Homo sapiens: one gene and its partner. The protein of the gene in region 1 purifies or fractionates together with the protein of each later gene. This does not show direct contact. Each region holds a gene or a part of one and is shown on either strand. Other genes may lie near its edges.

The links.
Region 2: the proteins of MCM8 (region 1) and ORC2 purify together in Homo sapiens (affinity purification with western blotting; one study listed by BioGRID). This does not show direct contact.

Annotation. Positions count from the first base shown.
Region 1 is NC_000020.11:5,953,352-5,957,385, reverse strand, and holds part of MCM8 (DNA helicase MCM8), read right to left. Parts: intron 2,779-4,034; coding exon 2,696-2,778; intron 2,285-2,695; coding exon 2,135-2,284; intron 261-2,134; coding exon 157-260; intron 1-156. UniProt on the Homo sapiens protein: Component of the MCM8-MCM9 complex, a complex involved in the repair of double-stranded DNA breaks (DBSs) and DNA interstrand cross-links (ICLs) by homologous recombination (HR).
Region 2 is NC_000002.12:200,908,477-200,911,660, forward strand, and holds the end of ORC2 (origin recognition complex subunit 2), read right to left. Parts: intron 2,912-3,184; coding exon 2,825-2,911; 3' UTR 501-2,824; downstream 1-500. UniProt on the Homo sapiens protein: Component of the origin recognition complex (ORC) that binds origins of replication. DNA-binding is ATP-dependent. The specific DNA sequences that define origins of replication have not been identified yet.

The DNA of each region.
Region 1 (4,034 bases):
TTCAATGAGTTTATTTCAGTGTGATGATCAATGAGATGGCAAGGAACTCATGTCCTTTTTACTGATTTCCTCATTTTTATAAAATGAGCGTTTTCATTCTTAAATGGCCTTCAATGTCCCATTCTAAGTAATACTTTAATACATCAAATTCCTCACCTTGCATGAATATGTGGCACATTTACCATTGTTTCTCCATCATTAGACAATCCTTCCTGGGCTTGTAACTCAGCTGCATGCCTTTCAAGGTCCTTAGTTAACACCTAAACAGGACAGACATTTACTCTGAAGTTGGAAAACAAAACATCCTCTTTATACAGAACTCTATTTTTATAGAGAATATAAAGTTTATGGACAGAAACAGAATAAAAACAGAAAACTTTAACAGCCCTTTAAATATCTAATATTTAATTATGACTACTTACTTTATAGTGGATGTTTTACATTGGATTTTGCTGTCCCTGTGCTGAAAAACTCCAGCATCCCAGTCTGCTACTTTCTGTCCCAACTAAACCTAACATTAAAAGCCCTTACATTAGTCCCCAAAACCATCACCTCTTGATACTAATTAAAAAAAAAAAAATGCATTCCTATTTCTCTATATTCACTGACCAATCAAGACACAGAAAATAAAAATGACCTTTAAAATACCTAATACTCACTCCCTTGGCATTTAACATTAAATAATATAAACACGCTGGGCGCAGTGGCTCACACCTGTTATCCCAGCACTTTGGGAGGCCAAAGTGGGTGGATCCCCTGAGGTCAGGAGTTTGAGACCAGCCCGACCAACATGGTGAAACCCCATCTCTACTAAAAATACAAAAATTAGCCAAGTGTGGCAGTGCATGCCTATAATCCCAGCTACTTGGGAGGCTGAGGCTGCAATGAGGCAAGATCACACCATTGCACTCCAGCCTGGGCAACAAGAGCAAAACTCCATTTCAAAATAAATAAATAAATAAACAACAAACAAACATTTAATACCACTTGTACACAGCAGTTTGCTGGCAACCTAAGAGGCAAAATAAGATGCATATATACAGCTGTAATTGTCATAAGGACCATAAAGATGTACAGACAAAATACCATGCAAGTTTCGAAAAGTGGTCATGAGAAAGGTTTTACAGACAGACAACTGAGCTAGGCCCAAATAATCTGTCCATGTGAAGGGAAGGGGATTCTATGTTGAATGGACAGCACAGGCAAGAGGTAGAAGAATGCCCCTCTGAATGCCCCAGCACTTTGTGTATGCCTGTCCTGAGATTTGCTATTCATTACCTTGAAGCATGTATCTGTTTGCTAGCCTAAAAAATGTTTTTGGCCGGGCAAGGTGGCTCATGCCTGTAATCCTAGCACTTTAGGAAGCCAAGGCAGGCGGATCACAAGATCAAGAGATCAAGACCATCCTGGCCAACATCGTGAAACCCCGTCTCTACTAAAACTCCAAAACTTAGCTGGGCATGGTGGTGCACCCAGCCACTCGGGAGGCTGAGGCAAGAGAATCACTTGAACCCGGGAGGCAGAGGTTGCAGTGAGCGGAGATCATGACACTGCACTCCAGCCTGGCAACAAAGTGAAACTCCATCTCAAAAAAATAAATAAAAAATAAATTTAAAAAATTTAAAAAGTTAAAAATGTTTTCATATATGTTGTATTACCTGACCCTGAAAAAAAACTCAGGCAAGCACAGTACAAACTGTTATTTACATTTGATATACAGGGACACTCAGTGGTTTGCTTCATGCCACAGAACCTAAATCTAAGGTTGCTCTTTTTTGCTCTAAGTTCATAACCGATAACACCATGATTCCTTGTTTTATCTTCCCTATGAGATTGTATAACTTCTTGAAAGCAAAGTTTAATTTCTGCACAATCTTTAGCAAGATTAAGCAAATCCAAATAAGTTGGAGGTAAATATTTCATTTAGATAAGCTGTTGTATATAGAATGAATGGTATCTTTCAGAACGGAACTGCAACCTCTCAGTTCTAGCCAACATCTTTTCGTAAAAGCTAAGTATCTCTTATAGAAAGTACAGTCACTGTAAAATCTTCCTTTAAACTTAGACAAGGTGTGCATGTGTGTGCAAACATTAAAAAAGTTTAGACAAAAGTATGCATAAGACAAATAGTTACCTGATGTATTGCCAAACCCATGCAAGCCAAGGTTTTCTCAGGTGCATCTCTTAGTTCAGTTGCTATATCTGGTATCAAGTTAGTTACTTCACCACCTTCTGTCAGTTCTTTAAAATCTACCAAAATACTTCCCTTTCTTTCTATTTCATCCTATAAAATATAAAAGTATGAAAACAATAATTGCTTTTCTGTAGTCAATTACCATTAACTGAGCATTCTATTATAGACTTTGAGAAAGCATACAATGTTTATATGTGATAATGGTAAGTATGACATAAGTATAAGCTTTGTGCCAAGCATGGTTCTGATATTTTAAATATATTAATGTATTACTGCCTCTTAACAATCCTTTGAGGTAGGTATTTATACCTCTATCTCCAAATGAAAGAAAACTGAGGCACAGAGAAGTAATTAATCAAAGTCCATACTGCAGGTAAGTGGCAGAACTGAGGTCTGAACCAAGGAAGTCTGACTCCAGTGCCTACGATCATAATCACAAGTACCTCGAATACATTGGTAAGATGGCACATGACTGGTAGCTTTGCTGTAGAGGAATCTTACCTTGTCATACAAATCAATATGCCTTGTGAAAAATTTTTCAAATGCTTGAATCTTCTCAATCAAAGGAGAGCTATCGCTGTAAACTAATCCAACAAATATGGCATTAGCACAAATAATCACACAGGTACATGCACATTTTTCATGAGACAAAAGCAGCACTATATACATGGTAGATGATTTTTTTCTAATTGCTTTGTATTTTGATTACATTCATATAAGAACTAGTATAGAATGTAAACTTAAGATTCTAAAACAAATTTAGGTTTGCATAATGTGAAATGCAGACAGAAACTCTCTCTCTCTAAAAGCCCCACTATCTGGGAAACTTTGTTTTGCATCTTTGACACCTAATAGGACATGTTAGTTCAGATAATTTAGACAATAAGCTTAAACTAAAAATTATAATAAAGCCAAAGCCAGACACATAAACTAAGCTCTTACTCTGACAGAGCTGAAGACAATCACAATCACAGTCTTTCCTGAGATCAGGAGACAGACCAACACTTGACCCTGGTGGCAAAACTGAAAAGCCTTTTTTTTTTTAACACTCTAAAGTTCTACATTTTCAAATATGTCTCTCACAGAAGAACAGTACAATAAAGTAGTTTGGAAGCACAGATGGTGAAGGCTAAGGCACCTCTTGAACTCCATCTTTAGGACTGTCCAAAGATCACTTATAGTGTTCTGAGCTATCTGCTAGGGGAGCAATGGGAGTGCTGGTGGCTAATACATCCTAAAGGAACAAAAGATCATTCATGAAACAGATTCTATTGATGGAAAAAAACGAACAGATTTCCAATAAAGAAAACATTTGTAAAGTACTCTATTCATTCACAAAATGACTACTGCATGCCTGGTATGGGGCAGGGAGGGTCCTGGACCTCAAACGTCTAGTTTTCCTAAAAAAAAAAAGTATGCGGCTGGGTGCGGTGGCTCACGTCTGGAATCCTAGCACTTTGGGAGGCCGAGGCGGGCGGATAACGAGGTCAGGAGATCAAGACCATCCTAGCTAACACGGTGAAACCCCGTCTCTACTAAAAACAGAAAAAATTAGCCGGGCGTGGTGGCGGGTGCCTGTAGTCCCAGCTACTCGGGAGGCTGAGGCAGGAGAATGGCGTGAACCTGGGAGGCAGAGCTTGCAGTGAGCCAAGATCGCGCCACTGCACTTCAGCCTGGGCAACAGAGCAAGACTCCATCTCAAAAAAAAATAAAAAGTATGCACACACACACACACACACACACACACACACACCCCTCATGAGACATAAGAAACAAATGGGTATTTTAACAGCACAAAAAAGACAGTTCCCTGCACCTATACAGACTGATGTAGGTTAAT
Region 2 (3,184 bases), on another chromosome or scaffold:
CCCAAAGTGCTGGGATTACAGGCGTGAGCCACCACGCCCGGCCTCCACTGATCTTTTATATGAGTGAAGTGATCATGTATTAAAATAACAAACAATGCTAAGAAAGTCCAGTTTCTGGACTACTGTGAGAACTAATTTAGCAGTCCTTGCACAATAAATTCAGCACTGTGGCAAATTTATAAACAATAAATGTTTGACATCTCCTGTGCCTTTTTTTTTTTTTTTTTTTGCAATTTTATTAAGAGTACCCAGAAAACCTTTCAAGGTTTCAGTAGATCTGTTCAATCTTGCCAGAAGCAAGTTAACACAGTAGAAGAAATTAGAGCCTTATCAGTCAAGACATAATTGCTAGAGCCTCAGGGACACCGATGCGGACACAAGTCAACAAACAGCATACAATAATGTGCCAAGATCTTCACCAGATCTGTAAGATGCACTCATAAAACTTCTTTTGAAGAACTTAAAAATATTTTTAGTAAAAAACCAGCACTACCAATTTATAAAGTGATTCTATCCAAATTGGCTTTTTATTTATTAATAATAAAGTCTACTGACACATACTGCTTGCAAATAGTATAGACACAAAAATTATAAAAATAAACCAGTAGATATTTAGGGCAGATGCAAAAATTTGCACATTAGGTCATTATAAACTAGATATATTAAGCAAAAAAAGCAAGGTGCAAACCAGCAAGTATGATATATTACCAATTGTGTTTTTAAAAGGAGAAAGACAGATACTTTTACATATGCATAGACGATATCTGGAAGAATACTTAAGAAAATGCTATCAGTGGTTGCCTAAAGAACTGGGTGGATCAGGGAGTGGGCAGGAAACTCACTTTCACTGAATATCCTTTGGTACTATTAAAAAAATTTTTTTAAATCACATTTATGTACAAATTTGTTTAAACATTTTGACTAGAGGTTATATTTAAGACTAAGCCCTTGGCCAGGCATAGTGGCTCACCCCTGATCCCAGTACTTTGGGAGGCCGAGGCAGGATCACTTGAGGTCAGGAATTCGAGACCAGCCTGGCCAACATGGTGAAACCCCATCTCTGCTAAAAATTCAAAAACTAGCCAGGCGTGGTGGCGTGTGCCTGTAGTCCCAGCTCAGGAGGCTGAGGCACAAGAATCACTTGAACCCAGGAGGTGGAGGCTGCTGTAAGCTTAGATCACGCCACTGCACTCTAGACTGGATGACAGTGCAATTCCATCTAAAAAAAAAAAAAAAAAAAAAAAGACTAAGCCCATGGACTTAACATAAAATTACTTTTTAAAAAAATGATTTAAAAAAAAAAAAAGACAAGGTCTTGCTCTGCACCCAGACTGAAGTGCAGTGGCACAATCATAGCTCACTGTAATCTTGAACCCCTGGGCTCAAGCGATCCTCCTGCCTCAGCCTCCACAGCAGCTAGGACTATAGGCATGGGCCACCATGCCCGGATGATTTTTTAAATTTTTTGTAGAGACAAGGTCTCACTATGTTGCCCAGGCTGTTCTTAAACTCCTGGGCTCCAGAGATCCTCCTGCCTTGGCCTCCCAAAGTGTTGTGATTACAGGCATAAGCCATTATGCCTGGCCAAAATTACTTAATTATATGCCACAAGAAAAATTATTTAAAAATTCCAAGGATTTTTGGAAATATTTTCATGAAAGAGGTTTACAAGATAAGAAATGAGTGAGAAATGCTGACGTAGTACGTATTTTATTGCAGTGATATTTTCAGGAAGAACTTCATTTCCAAGTGTCAAATATTTCAGGGGGTATGTGATGACTGTAAGCTGACAACAGTAGCCAAGGTGAGCCTTTTTTCTTTCCTAAGAAAAAAGTCTCGCGCAAATATTCAGGAGGTTTGAAATCATCACTTTAAGGAAAAAACTGAAATATCTTACAGTGAGTTTTAGGTCTACTTGACAGAGGAATCAAAATTAATTTACAGCCAGCCATTAATATGCTACTCACCTGCATGTTGTTCAAGAAAAGAAAAATATGTCAATATACAAGAATAATGAAATGTTTTATTTTTTGTTGTCTTGAAAACAATTACTAAAATGTAATTCAGGATTTTATTTCTCTAGCCTGGCTTCTCACTGGTATCATGAAGGTCATGGCACAGACAATAACTGTTCCAAATATATGACGTATTGTTCCTGTGCTTTCTAGGCTGGGTAGATACCCTATATACTCTGTTTTTCCCATTATCCCAACTGAATAGTATTATAATATATTCCCTCCCCTGCCCCCACCAAGTACATAGCCTCAATCCAAAAGGAGAAAGCTGGATCACTCACCTCTTCCCAATCTACACCTTTTAAGTTGTTTTAGAAACAATAAGAGATGACCTGCCCTCTCCATTACACTCGTTGGTTCTGACACACAGAATAGCAAACAAAACCAATTTACGTGATGCCCATGTCTTTATACTTCCACACTCTGGAACAAACACACTTGCAAACAATCAGCTCGGGGAGTGTTAAAAGGCCCTCAAAAAATTCAGAATATCTCTAAGTATAAAATAATTCAAAAACATCCAGTTCCAAATAGTCCCTGAGCACACTGTTCATTCCAGCAAGAAGTCTCCAGAGAGGTAATGAATGAAAGGCACATTTTCTCCAACTTGAGGACCGCTGCATAGTACTAGACGGTACCAGCCAGGCTGATCAAAAAGTTCTAATTGAGGACATCCCCCCCTTCCCAAATTTAAATCTTGTATGCTGGAAAAATAATTTAATGTCAGATGTAAACACAACACTTTCAACTAGAGGAGTGGCAGCTGGGGTACAACCCTTCCATGGGAGATTCAAGAATAAAGGAAAGCTTCAAGCCTCCTCTTCTTCCTTTTCCAAGAAATCAGTCAATGTTCCATTATCAACAGGAATTAATAAATACTCTACTCCATCAGTTCCCTGAAAGATTTAAGAATACCTGTACGTTAGTCATTCATAAGAGGTATATGAACTCTTCTATTGTAGAGGCTAAAGAAAAAATGAATTTATTTCTTGGATGTAATTTTTAAATATATAAGTATAAAAAGGCAAAAGGGCACACAGTCATATATACTTAAATATATGGAGTTATAGTTAAACATCCTTATAGTGGAAAAGACAACTAACTAGAGGGTGGGTAGGTGGGTATTTATTTTTTTCATTGTGCTTTAGATCATTCTTCACCTTCCTGCC